Homo sapiens: one gene and its partners. The protein of the gene in region 3 interacts with the protein of the main gene of each other region in a pairwise test. Each region holds a gene or a part of one and is shown on either strand. Other genes may lie near its edges.

Region 1 (7,081 bases), on a different chromosome or scaffold from region 3:
TTCCTTGGAGGTAGAGAGTGCGGACTGTGTCTTACAAGCAGGCAAAGCCGAGGCAAGGCCGCACGTCTCAGCCTTCAGAGGAGGAGGGACAGGAAGGCCTCCTGAACGCACCCCTGGGTAGGAAGGAGAGGTTGGGCCTAAGGGAGATGGAATGGCGGACGCTGGGAGAAGGGAGAGAGACCCTACTGGCCGGGATGTTAGTGAAGAAAGAACCGCACGAGTAAAGTGGGGGAAGAACTGGAGAGATGGAGGATGGGGGGTGGTGAGATCCAGCCTTGGGCGAAATCCGGCCTCCTTCATATCTCTGCCGTTGTGTGAGCCAAATTGATCAGACCCTGGTCTCCATAACTCCTTTTCGCGTTTGGTCAGCAAATATGTTTCTCCCATTTCTATTGGCCCTTAAGAGAAATGACCAAAAGAACTGGGGACAGACGGTTTCTGGAAGCTGCCCCTGGGCGGAGTGCTGGCCACAGATGTGGAGAATAGCGAGGCTGGAATGGGGCAACTTGTGCGGGGGCAGGCGGGTGGGCGTAGAGGAGGAACCAACAGGGAGGTCTTCCAGAAGGGGGGCTTCAGGCCCAGGGCACACAGTCAGTCCCCCTGGCGAGGGGCGAGCAGGGCCCCCCACGTCCCGCTCGCCCACAGAGGCACTTTCCACTGGTAGGAACAGCGTCTTTAATGGGCCCCGCCCCCCACGCCCGCCAAACCGCCCCCCTTGCGGGCCACTTTGGCCTCCTCCACCGCGGCACGGAGGGCCCGGGCCGGGTCCCCGCGGAGCCGGGCCAATTCTCCGAGCAGCGCAGCGGAGTCGTCCCCCGTACGGAGCTGTCGGCCGTTCAGAAAATAGTGAGGCAACGTCCCGGCCTCGAGCACTCGGCCGAGCTCGTCTAGCAGCCCGAGGCAGCAGGCGCCCGCATTTTCTGGCCGCGCCAGGTAGAGCGCAGGCAGCCGCTCGCACGCCCAGTACAGCAGCGTCCGCAGGAGGTAGGGCGCCGCCGCCCGGGTCCCGGCCACCAGCGGGCGCAGTAGCGCCTGGGCCGCCGCGTGCGCCTGCAGCAGCGGCGCTGGTATGCGCGCTTTGAGCGCCAGCTCCTGGCGGGCAAAACAGAGCTGCCAGGCGGAGGCGCACGGCCGCTCGGTGCCGCCACCGGGCACCAGGTAGAAGGAAGCCGACTCAGAGGCCAGCGGACCGGCCCACGAGTGGCTCCGAGCCCCCTCGGGCCAGCCCGCCACGGACACCACTGGGATCAGGTCGAAGAGCAGGAGGCGGCGAGGGGGCTCAGGGGTAGCCAGGAGGACGGTGGTGAAACCCGCGTGGCGAGCTGCGTGCACCAGACGCGGAGCACCCGGGACAGGGATCAGAGACTCGGCGACCGCCGCCAGCGTAGCAAAGAACCAGGCAGCCACCTGGGCGGAACATAATGTGGGCCACGCTTCCCGAGCCTCCGACGGCTTTGGGACTGGGCTTTCGACGGCTGCCTTGGTGACGTCACTACTCATTGTTTTCAAAGGTGCGGTAGAGCCAAGGTCGACGACGTCATGCTGAGGCGACTCGGACGCTGAAACGTCACTAGGCGATTTTTCCAAAGACACCGGCGCCTCGTGCTCAGTGACGTAGCTGTGCGGCTGGTCTACAGAGCTTTGCCAGTCCTTGGAACTTTCTTCGCTCTCCGTTCGGTGGATCGAATCACGTGCTCCTGGGACTGGGGGTCCTAAGCAATCCTGCCACATCTCCCGGATGGGGGTTCCGCACACCATCTCTGGGAGGCAGACCTGTGCGTAACAGGATTCCAGGTCCAGTTGCAGTTCAGTGCCGTCCAGTGAAAACATGGGCACTAGGAGTGTGAAGCCGGCATCGTAGTGAGGTCCCCGGGCGTAGGGACCCAGGGGTGCATGCCCCAGATCCAGGGAGCCCTCGCGAATCCCACCACGAAGCAGCAAGAGCTCTGCCTGGGGAGGAAAGCGAGGGTCCCGGCGGTGAACTAGACCTAAAAAAAGGGAACGGATCGTGAGGGCGTCGCCCAAAGCCGGGGCGGGGGCGGGGGCGTGGTGAGGCTGAGAGCTGTGAGTTCCCAAAGGCAAGTAGGGTTACTTACCAAGCAAAGAGAAGACAAAGTCCTTGGCCCGGAGGAGATCGGCTCCCGGCTTGGGCCCGTCACTCCAGCTCTCCTGCACACCCAGCTCCTGGATCAGCTGGGTCAATTCCTGCAGCTGCGCCCCGGAGCAGAAGTCGATGTCCGTGAGCGGCCGAGCTGGGGCCGGGGGCGGCGGGCCCCACCAGGGGGCACTCCCCCAGACTGCGGAAGCCATGCGGTTCTATCGCTTTGGGCTGCGGAAAACACGGAAGGGAGGTGGCTTTGCTGCCACAAAGTCGTCCCCGTTCTTCCCTCTTCCTGAGGCCGAGCGAGTGCCCCAGACACAACCTACAAATGGGTCTGTAGATGATGGGTTCTAAATTTAGTCCTCAAAATGAACAAATAAATACCTCTTCTATCCTGGCCCTTTTCTCATAGGCAGGTCCCCGCCCCCATGAACTGGTTCACCGGACTCAGCAGGTAAAAAGTAACTGTTGGCTCCTCCTACGGAATGCAGTAGCCAGCCTCCGCTGCCGCCCCTTGTCTACCTCCCTTTACCTCTTTTTTGGAAGAGGCTTATTAGTCTGCGGCTTCCCCCTTATGGGAAGCAGTAAGGGTGGGGAGCAGAAATAGATTCAACAGGTTACTTCTTCCTGATGCCCACGTGGCCACGCCCCTACATTTTCAGCCACGCCCCTTTCTGGAGGCTGTCGAGGTGGTTTCCGCCGGGTCGGGTCGCCAGTCAGAGCTCAATCACTCTTTTGGCCCTGCTGAAATCCCGCGTTATCCTGGGAGTTGTAGTTTCCCGCTCTACTAGGGCGTGGTAGCCACGCCCCCACATCCTTTCCTGTTCCGCTGAAGTAGTGCCTGATGGAAGTTGTAGTTCCTCTGGAGACAGATTATTCTGTGTCTTTTCACACCCATATCAACCCCACTCAAACATTCCTTGGGGTTTGAGAGGGGTAATAGGATGGCTCTGAGTCGCAAAAAATAATGAGGGATGGGCCGGGCGCGGTGGCTCCCGCCTGTAACCCCAGCACTTTGGGAGACTGAGGCGGGTGAATCACCTGAGGTCAGGAGTTCAAGGCCAGCCTGGCCAACATTGCGAAACCCTGTCTCTACTAAAAATACAAAAATTAGCCGGGCGTGGTGGCAGACGCCTGTAATCCCAGCTACTTAGGAGGCTGAGGCAGGAGAATCACTTGAACCTAGGAGGGAAAGGGTGCAGTGAGCTGAGATTGTGCCATTGCACTCCAGCCTGGGTGATAAGAGCGAAACTCCACCCTAGGGCCTGGGGAGAGATAGGGACCCCTGCCTGGGTGGGGTGGGGGGGGTGCATCTTGGAATCCCAAAAGTGGTAGTGTTAGGCAGGAGCACACAGATGGTGACCCAGAAATGGACGTTTGACTCATAGGAGAGACATACATGTTAGTGATGCCCACCTCAGCTCACTGCTACCTGAGTCGTGGCAGGGAAAACACTTTGGGATCTCAAATTTTTGTTTTGTTTTGTTTTGTTTTTGAGACTGAGTCTCGCACTGTTGCCCAGACTGGAGTGCTGTGGCGCAATCTCCGCTCACTGCAACCTCCACCTCCCGGGTTCAAGCAGTTCTCCTGCCTCAGCCTCCCGAGAAGCTGGGATTACGGCGCCTGCCACCATACCTGGCTAATTTTTTGTATTTTTAGTAGAGACAGGGTTTCACCATGTTGGCCAGGCTGGTCTTGAACTCCTGACCTCAGGTGATCCTCCCACCTCGGCCTCCCAAAGTGTTGGGATTATAGGCACGCGCCACTGCACCCGGCCTGGGCCACGACTTCTTACATTCCTTCTGCCCTTGGTCTGTCTCCAGGACGGGATAGGCCTAAGTCCATGGATAAGATAATTAAGGAGGACATCTAGGAAAATTAGAGGCCTGTAAAAGAAGAGACTCCCCAACTGTAGAGATCAATTTGGCAAGCCCAGGACTCAGGGGTTCCTCGTCACTGACAGAGAGTTTTCTCCTTCAGCAACCAGAGCTGGGGTCCCTGGGAGAAGCGAGAGCACCAAAGCAGCCCAGAACTGCGCAAGTAGGTTCCCGTACACACACATCTGGCTGTGACCCAAGAGGCCAGATCAGGAGAACTGGAGACTGGGCTGTTTCTCACAGTCTGGAGTAACCAGGCATCAGACATCCCTGCATCTCACCTCCTTCCCAGAGGGTGGCTTCCGAGGCACTCTAAAAAGAACTAAGTTCTCTGGACTCTGTGGAAGCTTTGAAGATGTTAAGAATGGGTGACAAGGAATAGTTCCTCTAAACTCTAAAGCATGGCTCTCCAATATAATTTTCTGTGACGATAGCAATGTCCTGAGTTGGTCCTGTCTGATACAGTAGCCACCAGCAGCCACCTGTGGCTGTTGAGCACTTGAAATGTAGATAATGTGGCCAGGCGCCCTGGCTCACGCCTGTAATCCCAACACTTTGGGAGGCCGAGGCGGGTGGATCACTTGAGGTCAGGAGTTCGAGACTAGCCTGGCCAACATGGTGAAACCCCATCTCTACTAAAAAGACAAAAATTAGCTGGGCGTGGTGGTGCACGCATGTAATCCCAGCTACTCAGGAGGCTGAGGCAGGAGAATCGCTTGCTTGAACCTGGGAGGCAGAGGTTGCAGTGAGCCGAGATCGCGCCATTGCACTCCAGCCTGGGTGACAGAGCGAGACTCTGTCTCAAAAAAAAGAAAAAAAGAAAAAGAAAAAAAGAAAATGTAAATTAAAATTAAACAAAATTTAAAAATGTGTTCCGCAGTAACATCTACTTTTTTTTTTTTTTTTTTTTTTGAGACAGAGTCTTGCTGTGTCACCGAGGCTGGAGTGCAATGGTGCGATCTCGGCTCACCACAACTTCCGCCTCCCAGGTTCAAGTGATTCTCCCTGCCTCAGCCTCCCGAATAGCTGGGATTACATGCGTGTACCACCATGCCCGGCTAATTTTTGTATTTTTATAGAGACGGGGTTTCACCATGTTGGCCAGGCTGGTCTCGAACTCCTGACCTCAGGTGATCCGCCCACCTCGGCCTCCCAAAGTGCTGGGATTACAGGTGTAAGCCACTGCACCAGGCCTAATATACATTTTAATAGCCACATTTGGCTAATGGCTAGTGTATGGGACAGAGGAGCTCTAGGGCCTTGAGGATAATGGGCTTAGCTATGCAGCTATGGAGGAGAAACAGGGACCTGTCCTCAGTGGCTTTGTGGGTGGCCAGTATCGGGGATGGGCTGGGGTGGATGTCCTCAAACAAACACAGAACATTTCTCTCGCCTCTTTATTCCTGATGCACTTTTGTCCCCTCTTTGTCCAAGGTTCTCATCACATTCTGATATCCCCACTCCTTGATGGTTTCCCCGAGTTGCTGGGTGCCTCTTGATGAAGGCGCCTAGGAGACAGAGCTTCACACTTGTCCTTGCCCACTGCCAACCGTCTCTGACGGGCATCAAAAACCACATGCCCTGCCTGGGTGCCTGGTCCAGGGCAGTGGGACTTCCAGTTGATATGGGTAGGCATAGACATCTGACGATAGTTCTGGTAGCCTGAAGGAACTGTATCCACAGGGCGGTACGCCCCGTGCTGGCTGCCTGCCCGCCAGGAGGATGACTGCAGCTCAATTAATACAGGTACCTCTGAGAAGGTCTGCAGGTCATTGGAGACCACTTGGGCCTTGGAAGGGCAGGAGTTCTCATTGAGTTGGACACGAGCCCAGAGGACGTGCCGCTGTGCGTCCTCCTTCTGAGCAGCCTTCTCAGGCACAGATGACTTCATCAGGGACAGTGTGGACTTTGGGGTCTGAAGCAGGGACAAAAGCTGGACAAAATCAGAACCTAGGGCAGGGCTTGGGTTCTTGTAGAGGCTGGGATCTGGGATGAGGCATGAGCTCTTGTAGGGGCCAGATTCCTGGGTAAGGCCTGAAATCTTGGGGAGGCCAGAGTCTTGGACAAGGGCTGGGTCTTTATGGGGGCCAGGATCTTGATTAATTCCTGGGCACTTGTGGAGATTAGAGTCTTGGCTATGTTCTGAGCTCCTGTAAACTCCAACATCTTGGGGAAGGCTAAATCTTCTTTCAACTTTAGTGGCTTGGGTAAGGCTTGGGAGGTTGGAATCTTGAGTAAGGCCTTTAACTTTGTGGCCACCACAATCTTGGATAAGTCCTGGATTCTTGTAGTCTCCTGAGTTTTGGGTAAGGCCTGAGCACTTTGGGAGGCCAGAGGTTTGGACAAGGCCTGGGCTCTTGTGGAGAAAAGATTCCTGGATAACTCCTGAGCTCTTATTGACTTCAGAGTCTTGGGGAACATACGGACCCTTCTGTGATCCAGAATCTTCAGTAAGGCCTGCGGTACTACAGACTCCTGGATCTTGGACATTGCCTGTATTCTTGTGACCTCCAGAATCTTTAGAAGAGCCTAGGTTCTTTTGGTGGTCAGTTGCTTGGGAGAGATCTTGATTTTTGTAGATCACAGTCTCTTGGTTTGGTTCAAGATTCCTATAGATTCCAGAGTCTTGTGTAAAGCCTGAGCTCCTCTGAAGATCAGAAGTTTGGGTAAATGGTGTTTTCTTGTGGAGGCCAGGGGATTGGGTGAGACATGGGCTCCTAAGGATACCAGCTTCTTGAGTCAGACCTGTGTTCTTTTGGGGGTGGGAATCTTGAGTAATGCCTGAATTCTTGTGAAGACCAAAGTCTTGAGAAGGGCTTGGATTCTGGCAGAGATAAGAATCTTGGGGAAGGCCTGGGAACTCATGTAGGCCTTGATTTGGAGCAAGACCTGGGTTCTCGTGGAGGCCTGGATCTTGGGTAAGGCCTGGGTTCTTGTAGAGGTCTGGGTTTTGGGCAAGGTCCAGATTCCTGGGAACTCTGGAGTCTTTTGAAGGGCCTGGGGTCCTTTGAAGGCCAGAATCTTGGGTAAGGCCTAGACTCTCATGACATTCAGGGCATTGGGGTTGGATCAGGGGTTGGGAAATGGTGGCGAACAGGGAAGG
Region 2 (7,038 bases), on a different chromosome or scaffold from region 3:
TGTATCTTTAGTAGAGACAGAGTTTCACCATGTTGGCCAGGCTGGTCTCGAACTCTGACCTCATGTTCCGCCTGCCTTGGCCTCCCAAAGGGCTGGGATTACAGGCGTGAGCCACCGCGCCCGGCCAGGACTTCAGTTTTCTATTCATCTGTGTCAGATGAATTGTTTTTCCCCAAATAAGATGACATGCACACAATTACCTGATTTATCTATAATTGCGTCTATTTCTTCAACAACATCAAAATAGGCTTCATTGTTTGTGTACTTTACCCCTGCCCGACGCCATGGTATGTTGGACAGCTGCCCGGTGGGGAGTGTGTCCCCAACATTACTACTGCCTAGAAACCAAAAAAGGAGAAGGCAAAGCTGATGTATAAAACAGTCATGAGAAAATTTATTACTAGGAAAAAAAAAGCTGCTTCTTCAATGTTTGGATTTTTCTTAATGAAGTTGTGGATGGTCACTAGAATTGTCAGACATATCCATACCAACATGATCAAATTTCTAGAAAAGAAATATAGGCCATGTGGCCCTCTGTCTACCTGCCAAACCAGGTTAAATTTATTTACTTATCTTTTGCCTCCTGTGTGTTAACAGTAATCTAATCTAATTCCAGTGGCTCAACAACAGAATCTCTGCCACTGATGAAAAAAGAGGTTGGTTGTTTCAAAACCTTCTGCCAATAAAATGTCTCCAGTGAGAATACAGAGTTATAACTAGGCCCTTCAGTATTCAACTTTATTTTACATGAGATGCTGCCAAGCACGCCTCAGTGGAGTAAATGGAATCTGGCCTTTTCCTATTTTAAGGTCAGCATACCCATACGGCTGCAATATAGCTAGTATTCAGTATCCAGCTCATTTCCTGGTAAACTGACACATGCCTAAAAATAAGTCTGGTTGTCCAAAACACATATCTTTGAGCTGTGACTTACTTAATATTTTGGTTAATTTATATTTCCCATTCGAAAGTACTACATACTTAACAACAACAAAAAGGTAGAGTTCAGAGAAGTGGTTTAAAGAAAAACACCTGTCTTCTTACTAACAAAATATATCTACCATTAACATTTTTGTTAATATTATGGTATTAACATTTTAATATAATATTAACATTTTGGTATATTTCTTTGAATATTTCCACCACCAGAAGGTTGCATTTTTTTCTATTTTGATAATTTTGGTTTTTAATTGCACTTTAAAATATAGTCGCAATCATACTGTATCTACAATTTTGCAGTCTACTTATGATTGGTGTTCCTACCTGCAACCTATAATCATGTTATCTTCCTGCTCAAAAACGTTCAATGTTTGCTCACTGGCTTTATGATAAAAGCTAAATATTTATCCTAGCTTTGAAGGACTTTCTCTACTTTTTAATTTGATCTCTAACTTCTCAAGTGAAAAACAGTTCTGCTTCTGCTAAAGGGATTAATAAAACTTTAGGTTTTTCTCTTTCATGTGTGTTTTTTTCTCATACAGTTCCACCATGGAGAATGCTCTTATTCCTTCCTCACTTCCTGAATTCTACTGATTTTCCAAGGTGGCCACCCACCACAGTTCAGGAGGGATTACTTCATTAATGGAACCATTCTCTTGAACTTTGTAATACACTATCTAATGAATCTGTTATGTTTTGCATTATATATTTTAGTAACTTTTCTCTGACTATAAAATACATGTTTATTTTGGAAAATTAGAAAGTATAAAGCAAAAATAAATATAATCTGTATTTAGCTGGGTATAATCATTGTAAATACTTTTTTGTCGGAGTGAATATTTATATATAAGAATAATTTTTTTCAGTTTTGTGCTGACTTTTCAATTTAACGTTACATCATGTGTATTTATTTTCCAATGCTATTACTTTATCTGTGAAGTATGGAATTGCTTTTTAAAGTCTTATACAGTTATTTACTTAATTTTTTTTCCAATGTCCCATTCAGAGTATAAGTTTTAGGAGTACAGACACACCATCTTATCTTTCTTTGAATTTCTCCTAACATTCGTCCTTACACAAAGGATGAATAAAGAGCTGCTGAATGATCTTTTTCTTATAGGCCTCTCTCACCTCATTTTTAGGTCAAGGCACTGGACAGGGGTTTACAATGGTTGACAGTGGAGTTGGAGTGGCATATAACATTTCATAGGAATCTTTGTCTAAAAGACTTTAATGCTTTCGAAAGAATATTGGTATCTGGATGTGCCTAATTTCTAGCTACACTCAAGAATTAAACCCAGCTGGAAGCTTACAACACAAGTACAGGCCCACAATGCATGAGATCTCATAAGTAAACTATTTCCTATTTTTTCTTAATACATCTTCTGAATGCATAAAAACAAAGACTTGGAGGAGATTGTAGTACTGTGTGGTTAAGCGTCTTAAATTTTCTATTCTCTAGTAATTGTGGAGTAGCAGCATACCAGTTATGTAATGCTATTTTAAATATTAAAATGCCAGTCTATAAATGGACTAAATTCTCTTCTAAGTGGGCTCATATACTGGCTTCTTTAGGAATAACTGGAACAATTTATTCAGTCTTAGTATTTAGTGTTAAATAATGGTAATAATATTGTTGTGGTGTTTTAGAAAAAAAAAAAGAGTAATAACCAAAAGTTCTTTATCACTTAAGGTCTAGCCTCTTTCCATGAAAATAAATATATAGTACATCCATTTTAACTTTACCAGTAACTTTAATTATGGCCAAATTGTACTACCTTAATAATATGTCAGATCATGAGCAATAATGAGTTGTTTACAAAGTTTTAATTGCTCAGTTACTAGCACAGTATGTTTTCATCTTACCTGTAATAGAGTTGACAACAGAGCGTAGAATTGTTGGTGGTTTAATCAATTCTTTCAAAATGTTAGATTCGGTAGCCAGTGGAAATCCATTGTCTAACATTTCTTCTAAGAGTTCATATACTATGACCACATTATCCTTAATTGCAGCCTCTGAACACTCACCAAAGTAGTCCTGACAAAATACACACAAAATATCACACAATGGAAGGCAAAAAGAAAGGCCTGCTAAATACTTTTTGTTCTGAAGAATAAACTTAGAGTAGCATAATTCATTGCTTAAGCTGCTGAACATATATAAAACAGAGCGGGGGAAAAAACCCTCTATAGTCCGGGCATGGTGGCCCATGCCTGTAATCCCAGCAATTTGGGAGGCTGAGGCGGATGCATCACTTGAGGTCAGGAATTCAAGACCAGCCTGGCCAACATGGTGAAACCCTGTCTCTACTAAAAATACAAAAATTAGCTGAGTGTGATGGTGCACACCTGTGGTCCCAGCTACTTGGGAGGCTGAGGCGGGAGGATTGCTTGAACCCGGGAGGCGGAGGTTGCGGTGAGCCAAGATCATGCTACTGCACTCCAGCCTAGGGAACAGAGTGAGACTCCGTCTCAAACAAAACAAAACAAAACAAAACAAAACAAGCAAACAAAAAAAACCCCTCTATAGTCCTAATATTATTCCTCAATATTTTCTTGATATTTCTAGGTTGAATTTAATTCCTATTACATATTATACCAGAAAGTATTGAAACATTAAATTGGAATTTGAGCTATAAACTTCATTCACCCTGATTATCCCAAAATACATATAGATAAGCTTAAATTATTTGGTATATTCCGCAAGACAAAATAATAAAATGTAAATATAGAAGAGTTCATAACCAATGAAAATCTTGAGACCATTGAGAGAACTGTATGCGGAGGGCATTATTGTTTCCTGATGATATACAGTCATCCCTTGGTATTTGTGGGAATTAGTTCCAGGATCCCCTGTAGATACCAAAGTTCACAATTCTCAAGTCGCTGACATAAAATGGCATAGTATTTGCACATAACTTATACACATCCTCCTATATACTTTAAATCACCTCTAGATTACTTGTAATATCTAACACAGTGTAAATGCTATGTAACTATTTGTTATACTGTATTGTTCAAGTAATAATGAGAAGAAGTTTGTACATGTTCAGTTCGATTTTTTTGTTCAAATATTTGCCATGTAAGGTTGGGTGACTTTATGGATGCAGAACCCATGTATATGGAGAGCCAACTGTAATCTGTAATACATATAAAAAATAGTGAATAGAGCAGCCATGTGTGTAACTGTATACCACACAGAAAAGGGCTTATGAATTTACGCTTAAACAGAGAGAGACAGACAGTAAACATCAAAACCTGGGTAATTAAATAATATAATCATGTCTCACCTTCAGCTAACTTGGGTCATTTAACTTAGAAAGGTATGATAGATAACCAACCTGAAAAGTGTCAGCAACTCGATGTAGGAACTCAATTACAAAGAGAGGTGGCACTTCGGTCTGTATGACAGATACAAAGAAGAGCTTATCCCGGTAGATACTGATGAGGTAGTGGTGAGGTGTTGAAATGACAGGTGGTACATTTTCAACATCAGCAGCTTTCTCTTGAGCTTCAAAGAAATAATCACAGACAGACTGGCTCACAACGCTCTTCCAGTGCTTCTCTAGAAATATGTCACCGGAACAGTTTATGAGAAATAGACTGTGGATCATTTTCTGTTGGGGCAAAGAAAGGTTTAAATTTATTATACATTAAATATCATTTAACATACACAAAAAGATTATACACCTTGACCAAGTGGGATTTATTCTAAGAATGCAAGGCTGGTTCAACATACAAAAATCAATCAACATGATATACAATAAGAACTAAAACAATCATTTCAAAAGGTGCAGAAATTGCATTTGACAAAATCCAACATCCTTTTACGAAAAAAAAAAAAAAAAAAGAAAGCCATTTAAGAACAAAAAGAAACTTCCTCAGCCAGGCTCAGTGGCACATGCCTGTAATCTCAGCACTTTGGGAGGCTGAGGTGGGCGGATTGCTTGAGCTCAGGAGTTTGAGACCAGCCTGGGCAACAGGGCAAAACATCATCTTTACAAAAAATACAAAAATTAGCCAAGCATGGTGGCACTTGCCTGTAGTCCTAGGTACTCAGGAGGATGAAGCAGGAGAATTGCTTGAGCCCAGGAGGAAGATCGACGCTGTAGAGAGCTAAGATTGCGCCACTGCACTCCAGCCTGGGTGACCAAGTGAGACACTATCTAAAAAAAAAAAAAAAAAAAAAAAAAATTTCCTTAACCTGATGAAAACCCCACAGCTAATATTATATTTAAAGGTGAAAGACCGAACACTTTCTCCTTAATAACAAAACCTAACAAGGATGCCCAGTCCCATCATTTCTATTCAACATGGTACTAGAGGTTTGAACCAGGGCAATTAAGCAAGAAAATAAAACAAAAGGCTTCCAAATTGGAAAGGAAGAAGTAAAACTGTATCTGTAGAAGATACAATCTTATATATAGAAAATCCTAAGGAATCCACACACACACAAAAAAAAACCTATTAGAGCTAATAAATTTAGTTCAGCAAGCTTGCAGGACACAAGTCAATATAAAAATCAATTATATTTCTATCCACTATAGCTATAAAATACTAAAAATGGGCTAGGCATTGTAACTCATGCCTATAAACCCAGCACTGTGGGAGGCTGAGGAAGGAGGATTGCTTGAGCTCAGGAGTTTAAGACCAGCCTATGCAACATAGTGAGACCTCATCTCTATTAAAAAAAAAAAAACAAAACAAAACTGAAAATGAAATAAAACAATTTCAGGCCGGGCGTGGTGGCTCATGCCTATAATCCCAGCACTTGGGGAGGCCGAGGCAGGTGGATCACCTGAGGTCGGGAGTTCAAGACCAGCCTGGCCAACGTGCAGAAACTCTGTCTCTACTAAAAAAAAAAAAAAAAGGCCAGGCGCGGTGGCTCACGCCTGTAATCCCAACACTTTGGGAGGCCGAGGTGGGTGGATCACGAGGTCAGGAGATCGAGACCATCCTGGCTAAGACGGTGAAACCCCGTCCCTACTAAAATTAGCCAGGCGTGGTGGCACGCACCTGTAGTCCCAGCTACTCAGGAGGCTGAGGCAGAAGAATCGCTTGAACCCGGGAGGCGGAGGTTGCAGTGAGCCGAGACTCAAGATTGCACCACTGTACTCCAGCCTGGGTGACAGATTGAGACTCCATCTCAAAAAAAAAAAAAAAAAAATCCCAGCTGCCTTTTCGTGGAATTTGACAGGCTAATCCTAAATTCATAAGGAATTGAAAAAGATCAACAGCCAAAACAATCTTGAAAAGGAACAACAGGGGCGAACGGGGTGGGGTGCGCCATTCCTCCCTGGCCAGGGTGCTTGGGAGCAGGGACCCCCACCTGCAGCTGAGCATCCTTCCTGGGAGCCACTCTGCTGTTCCAAGGACCTGGGAGGAGCCCTCGGTCCCCCGGGTGCCAGGGCCCTGGGGCGCACACATCCACCCCAGCCCGAGCCTGCGTTTCCTGAGCCAGGATCTGGGGCGAGATGGCTGCAGGCGGCCGTGCGCCCAAGCCCCACGTCCTCGTCTGCCTTGGGGCGCTCCTGGCCAGCTGGTCGCCGTAGGTTAAACTCACCTTACACCTGTAACCGGTGGACTTCCCTACATACCTTTGCAAGCCCTTCTGTGCCGACCAGCGCCTTCAAAGCGGGGTCTTCTGCCTTTACTTTTGGAAAAGCTTTTCATTTTGAAATACTTGGCTGACTTACAAAAGACTTCCCCTCACACTTGACATGATTGACAAAAGGTCTGAAATGCTTCATCTACAGTCTGATTTACTATGAAACAAGAATTGGGGGGATGCTTACAAAAATATGTAGAATTAAAAAGATTGAAAAAATATATATATTTGAATTAAAAAAAAAAAGGAACAACGAAGATGGATAACTCGTGCTTCCTGATTTCAAAACTTACTACAAAACTACTATGTGGTATTGGCACAAGGACAGACCTACAGATCAATAGAACATTAACCCTTACATTTATGGTCAACTGATTTTCAACAAGGGTGCCAAGACCTGGGTGACCAGTTGGAGAGAGAACAACCTTTTCAACAAATGGTACTGGAACAACTGGATTTCCACATACAAAAGAATGAAATTGGATACAAAA
Region 3 (7,038 bases):
TAGCAATACAGTCTACCCAGAAAGACCAGGCAACAGTGATGGGGCAGGCTGTAGTACATGAGTTTAGAATAAATTATAATTGATTTCCAGCCTACTTCCACAAAAGAATCAGAAGAAATAGCCAACAAAAGTGTCTCCCCAAGTGATTGTTACTCTCAGGAAGATTGAAAACCATGCAGAGGAAGGGGGCAAGCACTCAGGTGAGACAGATGGTGACTTTATCTAAAGAGTAAATTTAGCTTGGAGATTCCTGGCAGCCAAAGCAGAAAGAGAAGTAAGACGAGCTGTATAACTGGCATTTTCTGACAAAATGAAGCACCTGATTTATCAAAGGGAGACACTTTTTTTGTCACAAAAATCCAAAAGTAATTTTCAAAGGCTTTTCACTGAAGAGCCATTAATGTCATTAATGTAAGAGGCAGAGTGTTACTGGGTTTTCAGATTTTTCTTGGGACTCCTTCTGATCCTGAACAAGCATGGAGGGTACAGCAGATATCATAGAGTGTCCGACATGACCCCGCCTGGCTTTAACATGACACGGTGGACTGTCTTGACCTCTGGCTGCCTTTGTCCACTGTGCCATTGGCATTGACCTATGTGAATGTGGGGCTGAGCTGCTTGGCTCACTTAGCTAGTCCAGGTTGCTGGGTGTAGCAGGTGTGCCACTTTCACATGCTGTGGGAAGGAAGAACTGACTTTGCCCCAGAAACTGTCATGGGCACACTTGATTTGTTAGTTTCCTTGGGGGATAAAGAATCCACAGCACAGCACCTGCTGAGTGGTTGTTGGCTCAGAGAAAGCAATTGAAGCCTCATGCTGATAGCAAGAGATGTATCAGATACAGGAGGATGCCTCAATCAGCATTCTCAGCTGCAGTCAAGAAAAATGAATTGTGGCCTATGTAAACAGAAAAGGTTGGCGGGCATGGCCAGTGCATGGCCCAATCACACCACTAGCCTGGGCTGGTGGTGACAGTTCTGTTGCCATCTCCATCACTGGACACCATGCCAGTCCTTCTCATGTCAGAACTACATACTGCTGCCATCCAACACCAAGATGTGTGCTTTCCATTTGCTGTGAGGCCTTGAGCCAGGGCCGGGGCTGCGAGGGTAGCTGGGGTGGAGGGAACACTCAGCACCTAGAAAACGAGTGCTTGGCGTTCTGCTTGGTGGGAAGCTGGGAATGGCACCCACCGAGACTCATAAGGGACAAGAGTTGGAAAACAGGGAAGAATGAATGATAGGAGGCCAGAAAAAACAGTCGAGCTTTGGGAGTTGAGGCAGGCTTATTGAAAAGGAGCATTTCACTCCTTTTGGCGAGATTTCTCAGAGCTGGGGCACTGGCTCATCAGCCTAGGGCTGTAGGCGGAGGTTTGCCTGGGGCAAGCGGCGGGATCTGCGGGCAAGGGGGCCATTGTGTTGCTCCTGCCAGCAGTCCCAGCTCCCATTTTTCTCCCTGCTCAGTCCGACACCCACCCGTCCGACTTTCTTAGGCAACCCTAGAAGGCTCCTGGAATCCACTTCCGCTCTCCACGGCCTGGGGCTTGCCCCACCTCCCGGCATGCCCCGGGCTGCCCTGCAGGACGCCCCCCGCGCAGTGCATGGTGGGGTAGCCAGCCGGCCACCTTTGGGCCATGGCAGCCGAAGGTGCTGTGTGCGGCTTCGTCTATCTGGAGGGCACTGCCTGGGCGGTCCCTGAGGACACCGAACCCTTGGCATCCTGCACATTGGGTACTCCGGAAAGACCGGGAAAGGGACTGGGGCGTGGAGGCGATCTGGGGGCGGGTCAAACGCTGGCCCCGCCCCTCTGCAGGCCCCGTCCCTCAGTGTCCATACGTGCTTGTGCTAGGGCGCCTGCGCCCTCACCTGGATTCCCTTCACTGGAGGGAATGATGTCCCAGGTTTTGGTCACTGGCCTCTCTCTGGCTATCCCTGGGCCTTCAAGAGCATTGGCACGGTGCCATGTGAAAACTGAGTTGCAACCTGGTGACACTGCAGCTCCAAAGTGCTCCACAGAAATGATTTGGGGACTGGCTTTCTGGGAAGGGGCCCAGGCTGGGGGGCTCAGGAAGCAGGCCCTGATTGTCCCTCTCTCTTCACAGGACATGGCAACCACAGAGAGAGCAGCCCTTTTCTTTCCCCCTTGGAGGCTTCCAGAGGAATTGACTACTATGACAGGAACCTGGCACTGTTTGAGGTAGCTGAGGAGCCATTTTGGGCCACAGGTTTGGCACACAGAGGCTTTAGCTAAGCAGGCAGGCTGGACACGTGGGCCTCCTCTGTCTTGCTCTTCCTCTCATCTCCTCTTGTGTTCCTGGTTCTCATGGCAGCCGGGCTGCAGTTCCCTTGGCCCTTTCAACTGAAACTGCCTTTCCAGAGGCCACTCACAATCCCACCCCCATTGCTACCTCCAGGGTGGTTCACCTCTGACTTCCTTACAACCCCTCAGCAAGGAAACGCCCGCTTAGGATTTCCCAACTCAGGATTTCTCCTCTTCCTTCCACTCCTGGTTCTTCTCCAAGTCCATGGTTCTTCGCTCTCCCATGGATTCTTCCTTGTCTTTCTTGGTTGACCCTTCCAGCTCTGTCCCTCTCTAGTTCCCTGAGTCCTGGTCCATTTGCAGCTTTAGGGGATACGTCTCTGGAAAGATTCCCAAATATCTGCCTCTGTACTTGAGTTTTATCTTCTTCAGACTCAAGCTGAGCAGTGAGATCTGGATTTAAGACGTAGTTTAAGCTCCTAAACTCTGACCCATGCATTCAGCCACTGCATGGCTGAGTAATGGAGACTCCTTAATCTGCCTTTTTTTTCTCTTTCTTCATTTTGAGATGGAGTCTCACTCTGTCGCCCCAGGCTGGAGTGCAGTGACGCGATCTCAGCTCATTGCAACCTCTGCCTTCCAAGCTCAGCGATTCTCCTGCCTCAGCCTCCCGAGTAGCTGGGATTACAGGTGCCCACCACATGCCTGGCTAATTTTTGTGTTTTTAGAGACGGGGTTTCACCGTGTTGGCCAGGCTGGTCTTGAACTCCTGACTTCTAGTGATCCTCCTGCTCAGCCTCTCAAAGTGCTGGAATTACTGCTGTGAGCCACCACATCTGGCCGAGGCTCCTTAATCTCCACATGCCCCCAAGGGCCCTCGTCTTCCTTTCTCACACCAAAGCAACTTCTCCCTGTGTGTAGGTCAGAAAGGAGCTGACAGAGAGGGAAAAGCTAAATGTGGGCAGGAGGCAGGTAGAAGCACAGCCTCGAGAAGGCTGCAGGAGCAGGGATCATCGCCTAGACCCCGGTGGGGCTGGGGGACCTGAGCTCTGGGAGGCCTCCTGACCTGGGAAAGCAGCAAGGTTCTGCGGTGAAGGCCTTGGCCCAGCCCCGCCTGAGGATGGGCTGGAGGATCAGGATCCCATCTCCGCGATTGATGTGGGTACTTGCAGGACTGGGGTCAGGGGAAGACCATCCAGGGAGATCAGGGTTTGGGCAGACAAGGGAGACTTCACTTGTCCCAGACATCACTCTTTTGCCCTCTTTGGTTCCCTGAGGTGACTAGAGTGGCTTTTTTGTGGGGAGGGTAGGCGTGAGTCCTAGAGGTGCAGCCATAGCCAGGAGGTGGCTGGGCAGAGCAGGCAGGATGAAGTATGCCATTGCCCCCCTGCCAGCCGTGTTCTTCCCTGCCCTCTCTCCCCTGAGGCAGGTGGTTTTCACAAATGGGCTGGCAGTGATTGTAGCCAAGGCGGGGTAGAGAGAAGCAGCCGCGGGGCTGGGCCTTTGAGTGCCACGTGCTGGGGTGTGGTGTGCACACCTGTCCAGTTGGATGGCTTGGACTTCCCCAGGTAGGAACTGGGATCAGGCCCAGGCCTGTCTCAGGGCTTGGAACAGGGCCAGGGACCAGGCAGCTGGCTCCACACAGCTGGCACCCACCTGGCCCAATGCCATCTTGCCCTGTGGCTCTGTTTGCAGGAAGAGCTGGACATCCGCCCAAAGGTATCGTCTCTTCTGGGAAAGCTCGTCAGCTACACCAACCTCACCCAGGGCGCCAAAGAGCATGAGGAGGCCGAGAGTGGGGAGGGCACCCGCCGGAGGGCAGCCGAGGTGAGCTGGTTGGGGCGGCAGAGGGGCCACACCTGGGAAGACAGACACAGCACCATGGAATTGACTGTTTCCCCACATGGTGGTGAGCACACTGGGGGAAGTGGGTGCCAAGCATAGTGAGCAGGGAGGATGGGCACTGAATGCCTTGTCTCAGGAGGCTTTAAGAAGTGACCTAATGAGAATCCCCCCGGGGGGCAGAGGGCCAGGGAGCCCCTCAGGAATGACAGCAGGAGACACAGCTGCCTGTACTCAGCCTTTACTGTGTGCGAGGTACCACACCAGGCCTGGGTTCTCATATGTCATCTGTACAACAAAACCAAGAGGCAGGTGCTTACTATCATCCCCATTTTTCAGACAAGGAAATAGTGTCAGGGACATTAAGGAACTTGTCTAAGGTGACTGAGCTAGACAAGATCAATGTGTAATGCTGGGAGATGGATTCGTAGATTTTATGGGAGACAGATTTGTGGGATATGTAACTATGCAAAATGCCAGATCAGTGACATTGTGTGAGGCTGGCTAAGAGTGTTGCCCTTGGAGCCAGGAACCAGGTTGTCTCTCGGAGGTCATGCAATCCAGAGCAAGTCACAAACCCTCCTGCTGCTCGCAGTGTTGGCCCAAGGCTCTATTGGCAGAAGCCTCCAACAACCCCCTGGGTTCCTTGAGTGCCAGTGTCAGGGGACATGTGTATGTGATCGGAGCCTGATGCTGCCTTGTGGGGCTTTCCTGTCCCACTTTTTGGTCACTAATCCAGTTCTCTGGCCCTTCAGCCCTCTTCTCTTTGGGGTGACTGTTACCTCTTTGCCTAGCTCCTCTGTGTCATTGCGGCTCAGTGTAGCTGAGGGCTGGGGATTTTTCTACATTTTTCATTTGGAGGCTAGGGACCCTCCCTCTCCACACACTGACTCCCTGAGGTTTGGGAAGCAGTGGTGTTTTAAGAGGAGCTGACGTCTGGCACTGGCTGTAGTATTCTCAGAGGTCGGCACAAGCAGAAGGCGCTCCTGGCTGGGATAAGCCAGGCCTGCAGCCTCACACCTGGTCGTGAGATTTGGGCCTTTCTGGGGTGGGGCCAGCAGAGAAGGTAGACCCCACTGAAGCGCGTCTCTCACCTTGCCCTTCAGGGAGGCAAACCAGCCCACACTTCAGAGAGGGCAGCTGATACCTTGAGGTCGCACAGACCTGACCCTGACCCTGTGCAGCCAGGTGTGACTAGATAGCAGAGAACCCTAACTGCGTCTGGCCATGTCTGTCCAGCACTGCAGGGGTGTCTCAACCTCTGAGAGTGCTCTGCCCACAGTGGGTGACAGGATCCTTAGGTCAGAGCCTCATCCTTGTCCCTTCAGGCCAAGCCAGGGAGCTGGTGGCGGGGAGTGAAGAGGCCCCTGAGAACGGCTAGTGCACATCTCAGCAGGAATGTGGGAGGGATGCCTGGGCCAGAGAGAGCCCATCATCCCTTGGCCCAATGGGGAACCCGTGAGGATGCTTAGCTTAGCTATCCAGCTTACCTGGCCACAGGGTAAGGATGGGAGAGGGTGACTGGGTGTCTTAGCTGCAGTAGTTTTTTCATGGAAGAAGGAGGAGCTGGGTCAAGTCTTTAAGGAGTCAGTAGGAAGTTAGGGATCTGGGGCTGCTGAGCTGTGGTCCTCACCCAGGGCAGGCCCGAGCAGGGGCCTCGGAAAAGGAAGGCTTGAAGCAGGAAGGGTGGGCCTCCGACCAGACCATGCCAAGACCCAAAGCAGCCTCTCCCCAGCAGCTGCTCCAGCTCCAGCACCGGCTTGATGACCTTCTGAGGCTGCCAGAGGTTATTTGGGGATGCAGAAAGCATTTCCGGCCCACCCTGCCCTTTCCCACACTGTCCTTTTCTTAGAGTGACTCAGCCTGGGATGGGGGTGGGACTGGGAGCTCTTGCTGTCGCTATTCTGTGGGTGGCATCCTCTGAGAAGGGCTCAGACAAAGCCCAGATGAGGGGGATCCGTCCCCTGCACTGCTCCACGCAGGACAGGTTGAGGAGCCATTTGTTTTTGCTGAGGCTCTTCTGAAGTCCTTTAGGTCGCTCACAGGTCTTGCCCCAGGCCAGGACCCTTCAGGAGGGGCATTAAGGAACTTGTCTAAGGTGACTCAGCTAGACAAGATCATGGCCATGGAGTTCTCTTCTCCCTAGCTTCAGGGCAGCACGGGCACTGTCTCGTGGGTCTTCCCTGTCCCCTCTCCCCGTATGATTTTCACTAATCTAGTCCTTTGGATCAGTGAGGAGGCTTTGCTGGGGCTCCAGTGGAAGCTGTCAGGGCCACACTTCGGAGGCTGCACTCTTGGGGGCTCAGTGCCTCAAAAAGATGTCAGCCAGCCTCTGTGCTCTCAGCCTCTGCCCTGGCCTCCTGGCTGGCCCCTACTCTGCCCTGAGTTGAGAAAGCCTGCCTGGATTTGCGTATTAGATCTTCCTCACCTGCCCTACAGCCTGAGCACTTTCTCTGTAGGATTTTCCCAACAGGATGTCCCAGGGGCTTCCAAAGCACCACTCACTGGGTTCAGAAGCACCTTTTGGGTACCTGCAGGGCCTGCTGGTGATAGAACCATAAACAAGCCAAGCCTGCCCTAATATAGTAACAAAATATACAAGCACATTCTGTTACCATGACCTGTAGTGACCACTGTGATAGGGAGTATCAGATGCCAAAGGAATGTGAGAGGGAGAACCAACTCCACCTGAGGCAACCTTCGGACATCTTCCCGAGAGAGGTAACAGTTTCACTGAAGAGTTTGCCAGGCCGTGAGGCAGGGCCGACTCTCCCAGGCAGAGTCCAGCACATTCTCAGGTTCGCAGAATCTGAGGGACCCATGTGGTCAGGGGCTGGAGCTAATAAGAGAGGTGATGGGACACATCTGGTGGCCCAAGCCAAGGAGTTGGACGGCACACTGGATTACAAGACAACAGAGGGTTTTCAGCATGGGTGA

What was found.
Region 1: the proteins of SLC12A4 (region 3) and TMEM102 interact in binary tests that used the Homo sapiens proteins (3 or more experiments, as listed by UniProt).
Region 2: the proteins of SLC12A4 (region 3) and AP3M1 interact in binary tests that used the Homo sapiens proteins (3 or more experiments, as listed by UniProt).

Annotation. Positions count from the first base shown.
Region 1 is NC_000017.11:7,431,101-7,438,181, reverse strand, and holds TMEM102 (transmembrane protein 102), read right to left. Parts: upstream 2,748-7,081; 5' UTR 2,486-2,747; exon of another isoform or gene 2,330-2,485; 5' UTR 2,311-2,329; coding exon 2,097-2,310; intron 1,989-2,096; coding exon 676-1,988; 3' UTR 503-675; downstream 1-502. Other genes in the region: uncharacterized protein SPEM3, read right to left, coding at 5,420-7,081.
Region 2 is NC_000010.11:74,133,827-74,140,864, forward strand, and holds part of AP3M1 (AP-3 complex subunit mu-1), read right to left. Parts: intron 5,106-7,038; exon of another isoform or gene 4,980-5,105; intron 4,557-4,979; 5' UTR 4,554-4,556; coding exon 4,281-4,553; intron 2,978-4,280; coding exon 2,806-2,977; intron 339-2,805; coding exon 201-338; intron 1-200. UniProt on the Homo sapiens protein: Part of the AP-3 complex, an adaptor-related complex which is not clathrin-associated. The complex is associated with the Golgi region as well as more peripheral structures.
Region 3 is NC_000016.10:67,958,623-67,965,660, reverse strand, and holds part of SLC12A4 (solute carrier family 12 member 4), read left to right. Parts: intron 1-1,608; exon of another isoform or gene 1,609-1,633; coding exon of another isoform or gene 1,634-1,730; intron 1,731-2,101; coding exon 2,102-2,196; intron 2,197-3,954; coding exon 3,955-4,086; intron 4,087-7,038. UniProt on the Homo sapiens protein: Mediates electroneutral potassium-chloride cotransport when activated by cell swelling. May contribute to cell volume homeostasis in single cells. May be involved in the regulation of basolateral Cl(-) exit in NaCl absorbing epithelia.